Regions from separate parts of the Homo sapiens genome. Here region 1 is linked to region 2. The links come from fine-mapping of genetic effects on gene expression. Tissue or cell type: whole blood. Region 2 holds a variant in brackets; the other region holds the start of a gene. All regions are shown on one strand. Distances are between the middles of the regions.

What was found. PIP is the estimated chance that this variant, and not a neighbour inherited with it, causes the effect.
Region 1: it holds the start of FUCA1, and the variant in region 2 is fine-mapped to the expression of FUCA1 in whole blood (TOPMed, PIP above 0.99).

What each region holds. Positions count from the first base shown.
Region 1 is chr1:23,865,163-23,873,260 of GRCh38, forward strand. FUCA1 (alpha-L-fucosidase 1) reads right to left here and starts at 3,128. Exons shown (of 8, transcript NM_000147.5): 1 at 2,736-3,128; 2 at 329-463. The coding sequence starts at 3,124. CNR2 (cannabinoid receptor 2) reads right to left here. Exons shown (of 2, transcript NM_001841.3): 2 at 5,353-8,098. RefSeq lists an enhancer at 90-1,289 and a silencer at 2,540-2,759.
Region 2 is chr1:23,909,198-23,917,299 of GRCh38, forward strand. It overlaps CNR2 (cannabinoid receptor 2), which reads right to left and starts at 4,165. Exons shown (of 2, transcript NM_001841.3): 1 at 4,049-4,165. RefSeq lists a silencer at 1,014-1,063 and enhancers at 3,034-3,203, 3,977-4,491, 7,844-7,893. The variant GGTTGA/G (reference allele first, on the strand shown) is at 4,293.

The sequences.
Region 1 (8,098 bases), 44 kb before region 2:
CCTACTCCTCAAACAGGACATCAAGTAGCATCGTAGTCTATGTTGGGTATCCTTCATCTAACCAGACATGGCCATGAACTTCTGTAACGGTGTCCCCTTTGGTCACGTGAAAACTGTGAAGCATCAAACACTGCCAATTCAAAGGCCAGAAGCCCTTCCGGCTACTTGCTATATGCAAACCTAGAAAACACACAGGAGTAGAAGGCCAAAAGCCCTTCAGGCTACTTGCTATATGCAAACCTAGAAAACACACGCAAGTAGAGGAGGTACAGAACTCTTGACAGCCAGATCCAAAGAGATAACAGAGTAACCATCCCTGGACACTCACCTCTTCCGGAGAGCTGTTCCCAATTCACCAACCAAATCCCGATGAGGCCCCACGTCTTTGGAGTTCCAGTTCCAAGACACAGGACTCGGCCAGTTTGTGAAGCCTTCGTGATGCTTTGTCGTCAAAACTACATACCTGTGGACAGCAAAACCACATGAGCAAAGGAAGTGGGCAGTGAACTTGCATGAACTTGCCCAGCATGCCTGAGGCTTTTTAAATAGCTGAAAGAACTTGACCACAACAAATGTACTTGTACCAGTGACTATATTAGTGATATCCAGGAAGCTGCTGCAGTCACAATTCCCCTTGGGCATTGCTCCAAGAATGGAAGCAGATTTGAGGAAGTCCCAACCCTCAGTCCCCAGCAAAGGAGGAGGCCCAGAGGGAAGGAAGGAGTGGGTAAGGGAAAAGAAGTGCACCTTAGCTCTCTGATTCTTCAACACTTCTGGTAGGAACGATTAACTTTCTTTCATTCTTTGCCCTGAAGGAGAAAGAGCTCTACTGGAAATGGCAGATAATAGAAAACTAAGCCATTTGCTGGCCAGGCATGGTGGCTCACACCTGTAATCCCAGCACTTTGGGAGGCCAAGGTGGGCGGATTACCTGAGGTCAGGGGTTCAAGACCAACCTGGCCAATGAGGCGAAAACCCATCTCAACTAAAAATACAAAAATTAGCCGGGCATGGTGGTGTGTGCCTGTAGTCCCAGGTATTTGAGAGGCTGGGGCATAAGAATCACTTGAGCCTGGGAGACAGAGGTTGCAGTGAGCCGAGATCATGCAACTGTACTCCAGCCTGGGCTACAGAGCAAAACTGTTTCAAAACAACAATAACAACAAAATAGAAAACTTTCTAGAAAACTAAGCTGTTTGGTTTACCAAGCCTACATAAATTGCCTCTCATTTATTATAGAGGTGACAAAAGACCCAATAACTGGGAGAAAAGGCAAGTGTTGAAATAACAACCAAATCACTCAATATTTAATTTGCTTTTATGGCACAAAAATAGGTAATGCACTTTATGGTTCAATCATTGGCCAGAGTAGGGAACTCCAGGATTTGAAGGGCCAGATAGTATTTTAGGCTCTGTGGGAGCACATTCCTCTCTGTAGTGTATTCTTCTTTAAAACATTTTACAACCCTTTAAAAATGTAAAAACCATTCTCACCTCATGGGCCTTAAAAAACTGGCAGAGGACCAATCCCTCTGGCCAGTTTGCAGACCCTGGTGCAGTGGAAACAACCTTGACGTCATGAGACCTGGAGTCTAGGACATTATATTCCTTCCTCTCTTTGGGCCAGTCATCTCATCCATGAAATAAAAGGCATGGAAAGAGGTTATCTCCCAGATTTTAATTTTTCTCACTTGTAAGTTATGGATCCCTAAGGCCCCTAGGAGACAAACACTTCCTCTGCTTAATCAAGTCTTATACTCCCATACATTTAATGGCAAACACTAAATGCCAGTTGTAACTTCTCTTTAGTACAAGTGAATTCAAAGTTCAAGAGAAACGAAAACCCGGAAGATGGCTGAGGAACCAAGGTAAGGATGGAAGACTGCTCTAAGCCAGGGGCTGGGGAAACCTCCCCGCCTCCATTTTTACTCTTCTCCAACCCACTTCTCTCCCAGCAGCCGAATGAATCTTTCTAGAAGCTGATAGTAACCACTCCCTGACTTAACATCTGTCAATACAGGGCTCTCAAGGCTCACTCCTTCAGGACAAGCCCCTGCCTTGACAACTTCATGGGTCGTGGTCTCCCCTTATCCCCACCCCAGCGCTCTCTACTCTGTTCTCTGAACCAGCCACCCCCAAGTTCCAACAGTTCTCAGAGAGAGTCAGACCCTTCCTGGACACTTCCTACGTAAAAGGGATTGAGAGGAGCAAACGAATGACTATCTGTACTGTTGCCCAAATACACTGCACACCAGAACTCCCCTCTCTTTCCCTCTTAGAGACATTAGGGCTCAAAGGGTTGTATCCTTATATAACCCCTTTCTACAACCATAGAAGAGGCTGCAGGGAGGCTGAAGTGACATGTCCAGGTTCACAGTTGAATTAGAACCAGGCTCCACACCACTGATTTGAAACCCTGGAGTCCTGATAGTGCTGTCAATCTGAAAGGGACATCAGGTATGGCCTAACTCAGCCCTCTCGGTGCACAGGTGCAGATACCCAGGGCTTCCCAGCCTGCCATCTCCCTGAACCTTCATTTATCAGTCCCCAGTCAAACGCACCTCCTCCTCCTCATCAGGTGTGCCAGGCTCACTCCTGTGGCCGCAGGAGGCCACACGCGGGCCCCGGGGTCATGGGGGCGACCGGCAGCTGCGCGCCCCAGCTGGCCGCCCAGCCCCACCTCCTGTTTGCCGCCCGAGCCGGGAAGGGGCGCCGCTCCCCGGGACCACACTCACTTGGCGCCCGCGGCCTGGAAGAGGTCGGCCCACTCCTCCGGGTGGAAGAAGCGCGCAGTGAACTGCGGTCCGAAGTCGGCGTAGCTGAAGCCGGGCGGGTAGTTGTCGCGCATGAAGCGCTGGTACTGCGGCCGCCCCTCGCCCTGCCAGTGCCACCAGAACCACTCGCTGCCCCAGGCGGGCACCGAGAACACGCCCCAGTGGATGAACACCCCGAACTTGGCTTCGTCGAACCAGGCCGGCAGCGGCCGAGAATCCAGGCTCGGCCAGTCTGGGGTGTAGCGGCGCGGAGGCTGGGCCCGACGCACCGACTCGGCCGCTCCGAGGAAGAGCAGCAGCAGCAACAGCGCGGGACCCGCCGGCCGCGACCTCATCCCCGGAGCCCGCATCGCTACCCCTCAGCGACGCGGCCCACTCTTAACGCGCAGGTGCCCGCGGGCGGCTCCGCCCACTCTGACTAACGATTGGCCCGGAAGGAAAAAGGGGTGGGACAACCTGGACAGGTTGGCCCGAGTCGCTTCCTCCTCGGGTCGGAGGAGCGCCCTCTGGTGCTCAAGAAGGGAAAGACGCAGGGAGGCGTTGACAGCGCTTCGCTGAAGGACGAATAAAAACCTTGAAAAGGGACTTAACTGCGAGGTTAAATCGTGGAGGTGAGCAAGGCCCAGTGTGTGCGGAGAACTCACATTTAAGAAGGAGTCCATTGAGCCGGACGCAGTGGCTCACGCCTGTAATCCTAACACTTTCGGAAGTCGAGGCGGGAGGATCGCTCTGAGCCCACAAGTTGGAGACTAGCCTGTCTCTATAAAAAATAAACAAAATGAGCCTGGCGTAGTGGTGCACGTCTGGAGTCCCAGCTACTCGAGAGGCTGAGGTGGGAGGTTCGGGATCGCTTGAGCCCGGGAAGTCTGGGCTGCAGTGAACCGAACCGTGATCACGCCTCTGGGAGTAGTCCATTTTGCCGCAGCAATCCTGCAGGGGTAGGCTGAAGTGAGATCACGAGTTTTATTTAGTGATCACTTGGGAGCCATAGGGGGCTTTTGAGTTGTCCTGTAGCACAAGGCTGGAGGAGGAGATAACAGACCGGAAGGGTATCTAACAGCCCTGACAGAAATAAGGAGGTAGAGGGATGATGGGAAGAAACGTTATGAAAGGAGAGGAAAGAGAAAACTGGGTACTGAAAGAGGGAGAGCGGGCAGGACCGTTTCATCTGTCTGGTATTTACTGAGCTTTCTTTGGGAATTCCGAGGCATTTCAAATAGCTTAGTTTGTACCGAGATACCGCCACTGCACTCCAGCCCCTGGGCGACAGAGCCAGACCAAGGAAGAAAGAAAGGAAGGAAGGAAGGAAGGAAGGAGGAAGGAAGGAAGGAAGGAGGAAGTGGAGAGCCAAGAGGACCCAGGATTGCCTGGCAGGGAAGTTCCCCAGTTCCTCTGCAATTTGCACATGCTGCACATACTCAAACGGGAGGTGAGGCCATTAGCGAGGGAAATACGGAAGTCAGAAGTCTCTGAACAGACAAGGTGGCTCACGCCTGTAATCCCAGCACTTTGGGAGGCCGAGGTGGGCAGATCACCTGAGGTCGGGAGTTTGAGACCAGCCTGGCCAACATGGTGAAACCCCATCTCTACTAAAAATACAAAAATTAGCCGGGCATGGGGTGCGCCTGTAATCCCAGCTACTCAGGAGGCTGAGGCAGGAGAATTGCTTGAACTCGGGAGGTGGAGGTTACAGTGAGCCGAGATCGCACCACTGCACTCCAGCCTGGGCGACAGAGTGAGACTCGGTCTCAAAAAAAAAAAAAAAAAAAAAGAAAAAGAAAAGGAAGAAGAAGTCTCATGACTCCACGTAGCACACTCAGTTCCCACATGCCAGTGAGAGAATGGCAGCACATCAGAGTTGGGACTTTGAAGATCCTAGGCACCATCCTCTTCCCTACCCTTCCCATTGTACCGAGGAGGGAACTGAAGCCCAGAGAGGGCTGGGGGGCTGCCCAAGATCATGCAGCTAGTTTGAGTCAGAGGTGGGACTAGAATACGTGTCTCCAGGTGCAAAATCTATGCCTTTGTTCATGCTGCTTCTTTCTTGCACCTCATGAGAAGTCAGAGCCTATGTTGACAGAACCCAGCACTTCCTCACTCTGGCAGTGACAAGGAGAGAAAATGACTATTGCTGAATCACAGCTGTTTTCTTTTCTTTTCTTTTCTTTTTTCTTTTCTTTTCTTTTGAGATGCAGTCTTGCTCTGTCGCCCAGGCTGGAATGCAGTGCTGCAATCTCAGCTCACTGCAACCTCCACCTCCTGGGTTCAAGCCATTCTCCTGCCTCAGCCTCCCGAGTAGCTGGGTTTACAGGTACGCCACCACGCCTGGCTAATTTTTGTATTTTTAATACAGATGGGGTTTCGCCGTGTTGGCCAGGCTGGTCTCGAACTCCTGACCTCAAGTGATCCGCCAGCCTCAGCCTTCCAAAGTGCTGGGATTACAGGCATGAGCCACTGCACCCGGCCTACAGCTATTTTCTTTATCTTCTGTTTCTTTTTCTGCCAGATTATGTTGAAATATTGCCCAAAACAGTAAGCATGAACACCTTAGGAAAAAAACCGAACCCATCCACACACATTTTCTAGTAATCGGTTTGCATAGTGGTCTTTAATGTTACAGAGCTTGTCTTGGGGAAGATAAAATGGGACATTGTGATCTTCAATTTATTTCTCCTTATCCACATAACCAAAATGTGAACCTGCAGGGACAGGTGAGAGGCACTGATGTAGAGTGGACAGAACTGGAAGTTAGGAAACCTAGGTTTGTTGCACTGGACACCATCTCGTTTGTCTCCCTGAGCAAGTCTTGTCCACTGTCTGGGCCCATTTCCTCAACCAAACAACAAGGGCAGTTCTCAGTGATATCTAGGTCCCTTTTGCACCCTTGTTCTCCTCCCTCATAAGCTCTGCTTCTCCACTTAAAGCAGACATAGGGGCTGGGAGTGGTGGCTCACACCTGTAATCCTAGCACTTTGGGAGGCTAAGGTGGGTGGATCACTTGAAGTCAGGAGTTCAAGACCAGCCTGGCCAATATGGTGAAATTCCATCTCTACTAACAATACAAAAATTAGCTGGGCATGGTGGCGGGTACCTGTAATCCCAGCTACATGGGAGGCTAAGGCAGGAGAACTGCTTGAACCCAGGAGGCAGAGGTTGCAGTGAGCCAAGATTGCATGCCACTGCACTCCAACCTGGGTGACAGAGTGAGATTCTATGTCAAAAAAAAAAAAAAAAAAAAAAAAAGCAGAAATACAGTGTGGTTCTAAAAGAAGAGAAGTAGAAAGTGTGGAGTTGCGTTTGATCAAATGATTTTTAGAATCTAGTTTTATTCATTCAAGAAGTATTTACTCAGTGCTTGTTTGTGCCAGGCACTTGGGCATTTTCTTTGCCAAAATGAGAAAGGATTCCACCGATGAATAAAGAAAGGCATGCTTCAACTTTAAGGAATGACAGTATATAAACATGCAAATTCACTTTTAAACATTTATGCTACTTGTTTGCCTTACAAAAAGATTGGTGTCTGGATTAAAACAAGATTTGATTTTCCAAAACATACGTCAGAGCTTTTCAGAAACAGTTCAGTTCCACACATATTGACCAGATCCCTTCAGATGCTCTGCTGGGTCCTGACTGAGCACTGGGGATGCAGAGGTCAACCTGGAGCTCATCTTGTTGAGGGAGGATAAACTAGTGACTGCCACTCAACACAGCCCAGTGGGTGGACTTTGTTCCTGGGTCTGTACTGAGTTGAATAGTGTCCGCCTAAACTTCTTGTCCACCTGGAATCTGTGAATGTGACCTTATTTGGAAACAGGGTCTCTACAGATATAATTGGTTAAATTAAGATGAAGTCATACTATTAGGATTAGGGTGGGCCCAAATCCAGTGACTGATATTCTTTAAAAAAGACACCAGGCCGGGTATGGTGGCTCACGTCTGTAATCCCAGCAATTTAGGAGGCCAAGGTGGGCGGATCACTTGAGGTCAGGAGTTCAAGACCAGCCTGGGCAAGATGGTGAAACCCCATCTCTACTAAAAATACAAAAATTAGCTGAGTGTGGTGGCGGGTGCCTGTAGTCCCAGCTATTTGGGAGGCTGAGGCAGGAGAATCACTTGAACCTGAGAGGTGGAGGTTGCAGTGAGCCAAGATCATGTCACTGCACTCCTGCCTGGACAACAGAATGAGATTCCGTCTCAAAAAAAAAAAAAAAAAAAAAAAAGACACCAAGAGACACAGAGGAAATGCCATATGAAGACAGAGTCAGAGGTAGGAGTGATGTTTCCACAAGCCAAGGAATGACAGGGACTGCCAGAAGTTGAAAGAGTCAAGGAATAATTCTCCCCTTAAACTTTTGGAGGGAGCAGGGCCCTACCACATCTTGATTTTGACTTCTGGCCTCCAGAATTATGAGACAGTAAATTTCTGTTGATAAGCCACTGGATTTGTGAAATTTATTACAGGAGATTAATACGGGGCCATTTAATAAAATGGAGTATATTGAGAATCTACGATGAGTTAACTTTGCAGCAATCTGATGCTACAGATAGCTAATATTATCCCTAATGAGCAATAATCAAGCAGAATTTGACTGAACTAGGACAAAAGGTTAGTGGTTAAGAGGGCAGGCTTTGAAGTCAAACAGAACTAGGTTGGAGACCTCAGCTCTGGTACTTAGCAGGGTGACCTTAGACAAGTGACTTTGCATCTTTGAGGTTGCCACATCTGTAAAATGAAGATAACTAAGACCTTCTTATTAGGTTGTTGGGAAACATGAAGTGAAATAAGGCATTTAAAAACACTTAGCCCCCTGCCTGGCACATAGTAAAGGCTCAATAAAAGTGAGCCGGCACATGGTAGGTCTATCCTACCGTTTATTGAGTTAACTCAATTAATCCCTATTACATGACATGAACCTGCATATTTCCTTTGTTGTACTGCCTGTAATTATCTTCTTTATTGACTTATTGGCTGTCTTGCAAGCAGGATATAGACTGTAAGCCCCATGAGACAGGGGCACAGTCTCATTTATGGCTGGGTACTCAGGACCCTGCACAGAGCCTGGCTCATGTTTATGAGATGAATGAATAAGTGAATAGCTAGTGGATATTTTGTCTTGAAAGTATTAAACGAAGACATGTTTAACCAATATCTTTCATTTTATTCCATTTGAGGTCCCAAATAATTGCATTAGAATTCCTCTGCAATCTTCCTGCCGCCAACAATTTCTCTTGTTGGCTGTTTTAGGCTCCTCTGGGAGGAACCCAGCCTCCCTCATATGAAAAATGAGTACCCTGGGATCTATTTTATTTTATTTTTTTGAGAC
Region 2 (8,102 bases):
CCCCATTAATCTGGCCTTGTCTGTCATTTTCTCTCCTTGGCATTTGAGGTCTTTGCTGCATGGCGTGAGGACTGAGTACATCCTTTCTCTCCCCAGGAGATGGAGGGAAAAGAGAACAGTTTTACACTGTTCTGGGTTCTGCTGGAAGAAGGCTGAGACCTGATCTTACTCTTCTGGTGGTCCCTGCAGCATAGCTGGGGACCGAGAGCCTTGGCTGTGCGTGGGTTCCCACTCTGCCCTCTCCCGAGACTTCAGTGTCCTCATTTATAGCTTGGGGAGAGAAAGAGAATTGCCTTTACAGGACCGAGGTGAGGATTACATAAGATAATGCCTAAGCACAGTCAGGGAAGGTCTGTCAGAGATCATCATGGAAACAGGAAGTCACCTGGGCCAAGGGCTAGAGCCTCAGGGTCTTGGCACAGAGTAGACACCTCACAAGACTGGATTGGACTGCTCAGTTTGGGGTGGGAGGAGAGAAGCCGGCCATATTCATATGATATCCCTCCAATTTCCTCCCCAGCGCAGGTTCTCGGGTTGTCCATGTGATGGCATCTGAAACGCAGCCTGGCGAGCGACACAGTAAAGACAACCCTGATCATGAGTCCCCGAGCCTGCCCTGCATCTCCATACCTAGAGGCATTTCCACTCCCGTTCTCCTATTTTGATTCCCACCACAATATGGCTTGGTTCTGGATCCAGATTGACCTGGACTTGAGTCTCAGCTTTGCCATTACCACCAGTTATGGGACTGTGGACAAGTCTCTCTCCTTCTTTTTTTTTTTTTTGAAACAGTATCTTGCTCAGTTACCCAGGCAATAATAGCTCACTGCAGCCTCAATCTCCCAGGCTTAAACAATCCTTCCACCTCAGCCCCCTGAGTAGCTGGGACCACAGGCATGTGCCACCATGCCTGGCTAATTTTTAATTTTTTTTTTTTTTTTTTTGTAGAGATAGGGTCTCACTATGTTTCCTAGACTGGTCTTGAAGTGCTGAGCTCAAGCTATCCTCCTGCCTGGGCCTCCCAAAGTGCCAAGCTTACAGGTATGAGCCACCATGCCCGGCCCCTTGGATAAGTCTTAAGCTTGTGTGAGCTTCAGTTTCTCACCTTGCAAATGTGGTTAGTGATAGCAGCCCCCTCCTAGGCTGTGGTGAGGACTTAATGAGGAACGGTCACAGAGCTCAAATGTGTAGTAAATGCTTCATCAATCTTCGCTTAAGAAAAAAACAAGAGCGGATCACCTGAGATCGGGAGCTCGAGACCAGCCTGGCCAACATGCAGAAACCCCATCCCTACTAAAAATACAAAATTAGCCGGGCGTGGTGGTGCATGCCTGTCATCCCAGCTACTTGGGAGGCTGAGGCAGGAGAATCGCTTGAACCCAGGAGGCAGAGGTTGCAATGAGCTGAGATTACGCCATTATACTCCAGCCTGGGCAACAAGAGCAAAACGCTGTCTCAAAAAAAAAAAAAAAAAAAAAAAAAGAAAGAAAAGAAAAGAAAACAAAACAAAAAAACAAAAAACAAAAAACAAGAGCCCCTTTGAGGCAGGTTGGGAATGCTATGATAGCGTCATTTTTAGAGTTGAAGAAACTGAGGTTCAGAAAGGTGATGTAACTTGCCCCAGGTTGCCTGAGTAATTGATGAGGGAGACTTGGGTTTCCATGTGATTCCATGTGATTGATAGCACAAGCTCTGAACCCACAGCGCAGGACTCTCTGCTCACACTGGCTCCGCTATTCCTTGGCTGTGTGACACTGAGCAAGTCAACACTGCTGCTGAGTCTTGGTTTTTCTCATCTGTAAGATAGGGCTGCCTGTCTCTTTTCAGAGTGCCCTTTGTGTCTCGTGGCTCGGGGACTTTTTTCAGGGGTGAGAGTAGGAAGCAGAAGCTATTTGAAGACAACCCTTCTTCCTGTCCTTTCCTGAGAACCTGAGCGCAGTGAGAAGGTTAGGTCACGTGGGTGGGGGGTGGGGAGAGAAGAGTGTCCATCTGCCATCCACAGCCAAGGGGAGAGGAGAGATTGTCCTTGGCTGGGAGGGGACCGAGGTCTTGGGCACCTAGAATTTGCTTTCTGGGAAGATGGCAGGACCTCTGGGGGAAGTCACTGGGTGATATATCCTGGATGTCAAAATGAGACACAGTGGTTTCAGGTCTTACAAAGAATCTGGACTCCAGGCATGCCAGGGAAGTGGGCAAGGCTGGACTTCAGACAATCAAGTCCATTTGGGCAATGGGCATCCATCGTAGGAGGACCCAGGAGCCTCCCTCACGCTTATGTTCTGTGTGTCCTCTGGGTCAATGTGCATGGGTGGGGATGGGAGTGAGGGAAGCTCAGTGCACTTGGAGATTAAATTTCCTCCTAGCCCAGTAGGATGAGGCTCAGGGTCCTATTGAATGTGACTTCAACTGAATAAAGAAAAGATCAATTTATGCACACCCGAGGGTGTGCAGTAAGAGTGACTGGTACTGTAAAATGAGGTGGGAAGAGAGGGGGCTGGCGCTGGAGGGCTCTGCTTGGCTGAGCCAGGCTGCCATTTTCCCGTCTTCACTGCCTTATCCTGGCCTTAGCCGGCCAAAGGGTAAAGGATATGCTTCACCTGCCCAGCGCAGGTTAGGGGGTCACTCTGGTAAGCCACAAGGTGGTTACAGAGCTGGGGCCAGGATTATTGGGACTCCACCTCCTGAGCTCTCCCTGAACTTCTCCCCAGCCTCCATCCTGGTTTTCATGCTGCCAACGTGTCTACTTGCCACTCATTCCAGGGAAAAGCAGCCAGGCCTCATTTTATCCTCATCTCAGATCCACAGCAAGAGCAGATGGGGTGAAGATCAAACTCTCCACCACAGCCATTCCCGAGCCCTGTGCTGCTGCCCGCCCTGTGCCCGCATCAGACAGTTGACTCGCAACAAGCCTGTGAGTGACCTTCTCAGGCCCATGTTTCTCAGAAGAGGAAGCTGAGCAGGAAAGAAATGGAGTGATTTGCATTAGGCCATCGAGCTACCAGTGGCAGAGCTGGGATTCAGACCTGGACGCTGACCCCAGGGCACACTGGAAAATACTGCTCTTCCCTCCGCTGAGTGGAACTTACACCAAAGCAGACCCCTGGCCTCCTGAGTCCAGTGTGCCCCTAACACTACCTTGTGGTCTCCCCATCTATAAAATGAGAGCGCAGGACTCACCTGGTCATCTCAAAGGCCTCTGCCAGCCCCTGTCATTTCCTGGCCCCCATCTACTGTTGCAGTCCACACCTCGTAAGGCAGGATAGCCTGGTGGCTGAAGGGTGGGCCGCGAAGCCGGAGTGCCTAGGCTCAAGCCAATGCTCTCATTCAATGCCCGCATGATTTCAGGTGGGTCACCTAGCCCCCACCTATCAAGTGGACAACAGTGATAGCTCCTACTGCATACGGCTGTTGTGAGGATTAAATAAATCCAACCACTAAAGGCTCTTAGGGCAGCGCCTGGCACACAGTAAGGCCATCTCTGTGTGTGTGATTCTTGTCTCTGTAATGAAATGAAAGCCAAAGTCCTGATTCTTGGTCCTAGGAGGGGGATGCCAGCCCTGAACTTTCCTGCGACTGGTCCTCCACAACCCCAGGTGTCCTGAAATGACATCTATCCCCTGCCCCAGACAGGCCCACCTGGCTTCTTGTGTCCCTGGAGGGAAGGGATAAGGTAAGAATACAGGTTTTGGCCAGGTGCAGTGGCTCATGCCTGTAATCCCAGCACTTTGGGAGGCCAAGGTGGGCAGATCACCTGAAGTCGGGAGTTCGAGACCAGCCTGGCCAACATGGTGAAACCCTGTCTCTACTAAAAATACAAAAATTAGCCAGACGCAGTAGTGCACACCTGTAATCCCAACTACACGGGAGGCTGAGGCAGGAGAATCGCTTGAACCTGTGAGGCTGCACTGAGCCGAGATTGTGCCACTGTACTTTAGCCTGGTCAACAGAGCAAAACTCCGTCTCAAAAACAAACAAACAAACAAAAAAGAATACAGGTGTTGGGGAATGAGGAAGAAGCCTAAAATAAACAACAAAAAAAGCTACTCACGGTTGTGTTGTGGGTGGCTGGGCACTGGGAGCTGCCGGGGGCTGAGGAGTCCCAGTTGTTTTCTGTCCTCTCCCAGGACCTGGCCGTGGGTGCCACTCAGAGCACCTGTTGAGTGCCACCCCAAGCCAGCTTTCTCTTGCTTTTGTACTTTCTCACAGATGAGTGAGTGTGAGGAGGTCTGGCCTTCCGTGCCTGTTACCACTTCCCCTCCAGGTCCCTGGTGCCACAATGCTCTTGCCCCTGC[GGTTGA/G]GTTATCTCTTACAACGAACTCTGGCCAGGGTGGGGCATGGGCCTAGACCCTGGAGTCAAGGGACTTGGGTTCTAATACAGCCTCGTTAAAATGTTGATTCACTTAACTTCCCCAAAGGCAAGTTTCTTTATCTGTAAAATGGGGATAATGCACCAACATTACAGTAGATCACCTAAAAGGACATGCCATTCCAATGCCTCTTCACCACTAGGCCAGAGCTTTGAAATGCAAATGCCTACAGGCAGATTAACATAATGGGTGATGGATCCTGGTGTGGGGCAATAGGGAGTGGTAGGGACTGTGGGTAATAGGGGGAACACAGGACCCAAGTGGAAAAGCTTGGCTGGAGCTGAGAGGTACCTGACCCTCTCTACTGGCCCAGCTGAGAGGTATCTGCCCCACACCCCAGACCCTGATCTGGGCCAGTAGAGAGGGGCAGGTACCTCTTAGTTCCAGCCAAGCTTTTCTGCTTGGGAGTATAGGCAAATTGTCAGATATTCCAAGCATTTGGAAGTTGTGCTGTATTTTTCAAGAGATACCAGAAATCTTGACTTATGTGATAGCTTCCTGTGTGTGTGTGTGTGTGTGTGTTTTGTTTTTTGTTTGTTTGTTTTTGTTTTGAGACCAAGTCTCGCTCTATTGCCCAGGCTGGAGTGCAATGGCGCAATCTCGGTTCACTGCAACCTCTGCCTCCTGGGTTCAAGCAACTCTCCTGCCTCAGCCTCCTGAGTAGCTGGGACTACAGGTGCACACAACCACCTCCAGCTAATTTGTAGTTTTAGTAGAGACAGGGTTTTGCCATGTTGACCATGCTGGTCTTGAACTCCTGACCTCAAGTGATCCACCCACCTTGGCCTCCTAAAGTGCTAGGATTACAGGGTGAGTCACCACGCCCAGCCACTTCCTGTTTATTTTATTTTACTTTATTTTATTTTATTTTAATTTTTTGAGGCAGGGTCTCGCTCTGTTGCCCAGGCTGGAGTACAGCGGCACGATCATAGTTCACTGCAGCCTCAAATTCCTGGGTTCCAGTGATCCTCCCATCTCAGCCTTCCAGGTAGCCGGCAGAACAGGCATGTGCCACCACACCTGGCTATTTTTTTTTTTTAATTTTTTTGTATAGATGGGGGTCTCACTATGTTGCCTAGCTTGGTTTTGAACTCCTGGGCTCAAGCAAATCCTCCCGCCTCAGTCTCCAAAAGTGTTGGGATTACAGGCATGAGCCACCATGCTCAGCCAGTTGCCAATTTTAGAATGTAAAGCCCAAAGTCACACCTTTAAAAAATGCTATGTGAGTCAAACTAAACATTATCTTCAGTTTATATTTATTAGGGAGTATGTCCCTAATGTCCAGTCCTGGGCTGGATGTACTCAGGTATGGTATCTGATATAGTTCCAAGTGTCCTCACACCCACTCTCAGATAAAATATTTAATGAGACGCCATTATATTCTAAGGATACAGAGATGATTATGGCAAAGTTTTTGCCCTTGTAAACTCATGGCCTATGATTATCTCATCAGATCCTCTCACTAACTGCTCCCCACACCCCAGACCCTGATCTGGGCCAATGAAGAAAGATTTTGCCCCTGAGGTAGAGTTGCAAGATTCTTCAAGTAAAAAATGTTACAGGCATGAGCCACCCCACCTGGCCCAATGAATTATATTCTTGAAGATGATGGAGAGTAGATTTTAAGTGTTCTCACCACAAAAATAAGTATGTGAGGTAATGCAACAATAGTTGAGACATTCAGGCACTAAAAATTACTTGTTGCTTATGTGCGATTAGAATGCTCAGCCTAGCGTGGTGGCTCACGCCTGTTATCCCAGCACTTTGGGAGGCAGAGGCAGATGGACTGCCTGAGATCAAGAGTTCAAGACCACCCTGGGCAACATGGTGAAACCTCATCTCTACTAAAATACAAAAAATTAGCTGGGTGTGGTGGTGCGTAGTTGTAGTCCCAGCTACTCAGGAGGCTGAGGCATGAGAAATGCTTGAGCCACAGAGGCGGAGGTTGCAGGGAGCCGAGATCGCCTTACTGCACTCCAGCTTGGGCTCCAGAGTGAGACTCTGTCTCAAAAAAAAAAAAAAAAGAAAAAAGAAAAAGAAAAAAAAGAATGTAACCAGGCATTCTCTGTCTTATCTGGCAACACCACCCAGAGGGGACACTTGGCAATATCTGGAGACATTTTTGGTTGTCACAACCTGGTGGAGGAATTCTACTGACATCTGCTAGGGAGAGGCCAGGAATGCTGCTAACCATTCTGCAATGCACAGGACAGCCCTACAGCAAGGAATTATCCAGCTCAAGATGCTAACTTGCGAACCCTGGTCTGGACCTAGTCCTGGCTCCTTCAGCGCAAAGCCATTGCTGGGAAGGGCCTTTAATTTGATCATTCATCCCTTTGGGAAATGGAACAGTAACAGCCTCCAGCCCTTGCATCTCTCCCAAGAGCAAGACATTGGCAGTGAGGAATGGGACAGAGAGCCCCAGGTGCCAAGAAAGAGGAAAAGAAGACCAGAAGGAGCTGGGGAGTGGGGCCCGCCTGCAGCCTACATCAGACTCCTATCTGGGCTGGAATTGGAGACCCAGGGGTGAGCTGGAAGAGATCTAGCAGATGCTTCCACAATCCTGAATCCTAGACCTCTGGCCTTGAGAAAGCCCCACATGGGGAAGAAGGGTGAGGCTGTCCCCAAACGCCTGGTCCTCCATTGCAGCCCAAAGCATGTAATTGGAGGTGGAAGGCATGAATGAGTGAAGGAATGAATGAACGAAGGAAGAAAGAAAGGAAGTTACTGAAAGTTCAAGTGGAAGGAACGCTGGGAAGCGGAGTTTTTGTGTGGTCTCTGCCATTGCCTGGCTGACCAACAAGTTGCTTCCTGTATCTGTTCTCAATTTCTCCATTCCTAAAATGAGGAAGTTGGAGATAACAGGTGCCCCTGAAACGCCTGAGTGCATGGAAGTCACCCACAGGGCCTGTTAAAACACAGATTGGGGCCGGGTGAGGAGGCTCATGCCCGTAATCCCAGCATTCTGGGAGGCTGAGGCGGGAGGAGGTCTTGCCTGAACTCAGGAGTTTGAGGTTATAGTGAGCTCTGATTATGCTACTGCACTCCAGGCTGGGTGACAGAGAGAGAACCTTGACTTGAAAAACAAAACCCCAAAACACAGATTGCTGGGCCCCACTCCCAGAGATTCTGATTCAGTATTCTGGGATGGGGCCCAAGAATCTGCATTTCTAACTAATTCCCAGGGGAAGCAGATGCTGTCGGTCCTTGGACTCCCTATGGGCAGCACTGGACAAGAGAATCAATAAGGAAGCTCCATGATCTCTCAGTCCCCTGGGCAGGGCTGATGGGGCCCACAGGGGAAGTCTGTTCTCTTTTTGCCCTGGGAGGGCCAGGAGCAATTGTAGGTGAGGGTTTAGGAGGCGGTTTTCTCAGCTCCTTGGGTAGAGCTGGCCTCAGCAGCCCTTGTACTGTGAGATGCCGCCATCTACAGGATGGATCTACCCCATGCTGGGGCCGAGTGCTGTCATATTGAGGGTCTGATCTGAGGAGGAACATTCCCGAGAGGTATACTTTTCCTGTCAGGCCACAGGGAAGCAGTCTTTGCACTGTCTGAACCAACTGACCCTAAGATGGTTCAAAGCCAGGCATGGTGGCTCATGTCCGTAATCCCAGGCCTGTGGGAGACCGAGGAGGAAGGAAGGATTGCTTGAGCCCAGGAGTTCGAGACCAGCCCAGGCAACATAGCGAGACCCTGTCTCTACAAAAAATAAAAAATTAGCTGGGCATGGTGAT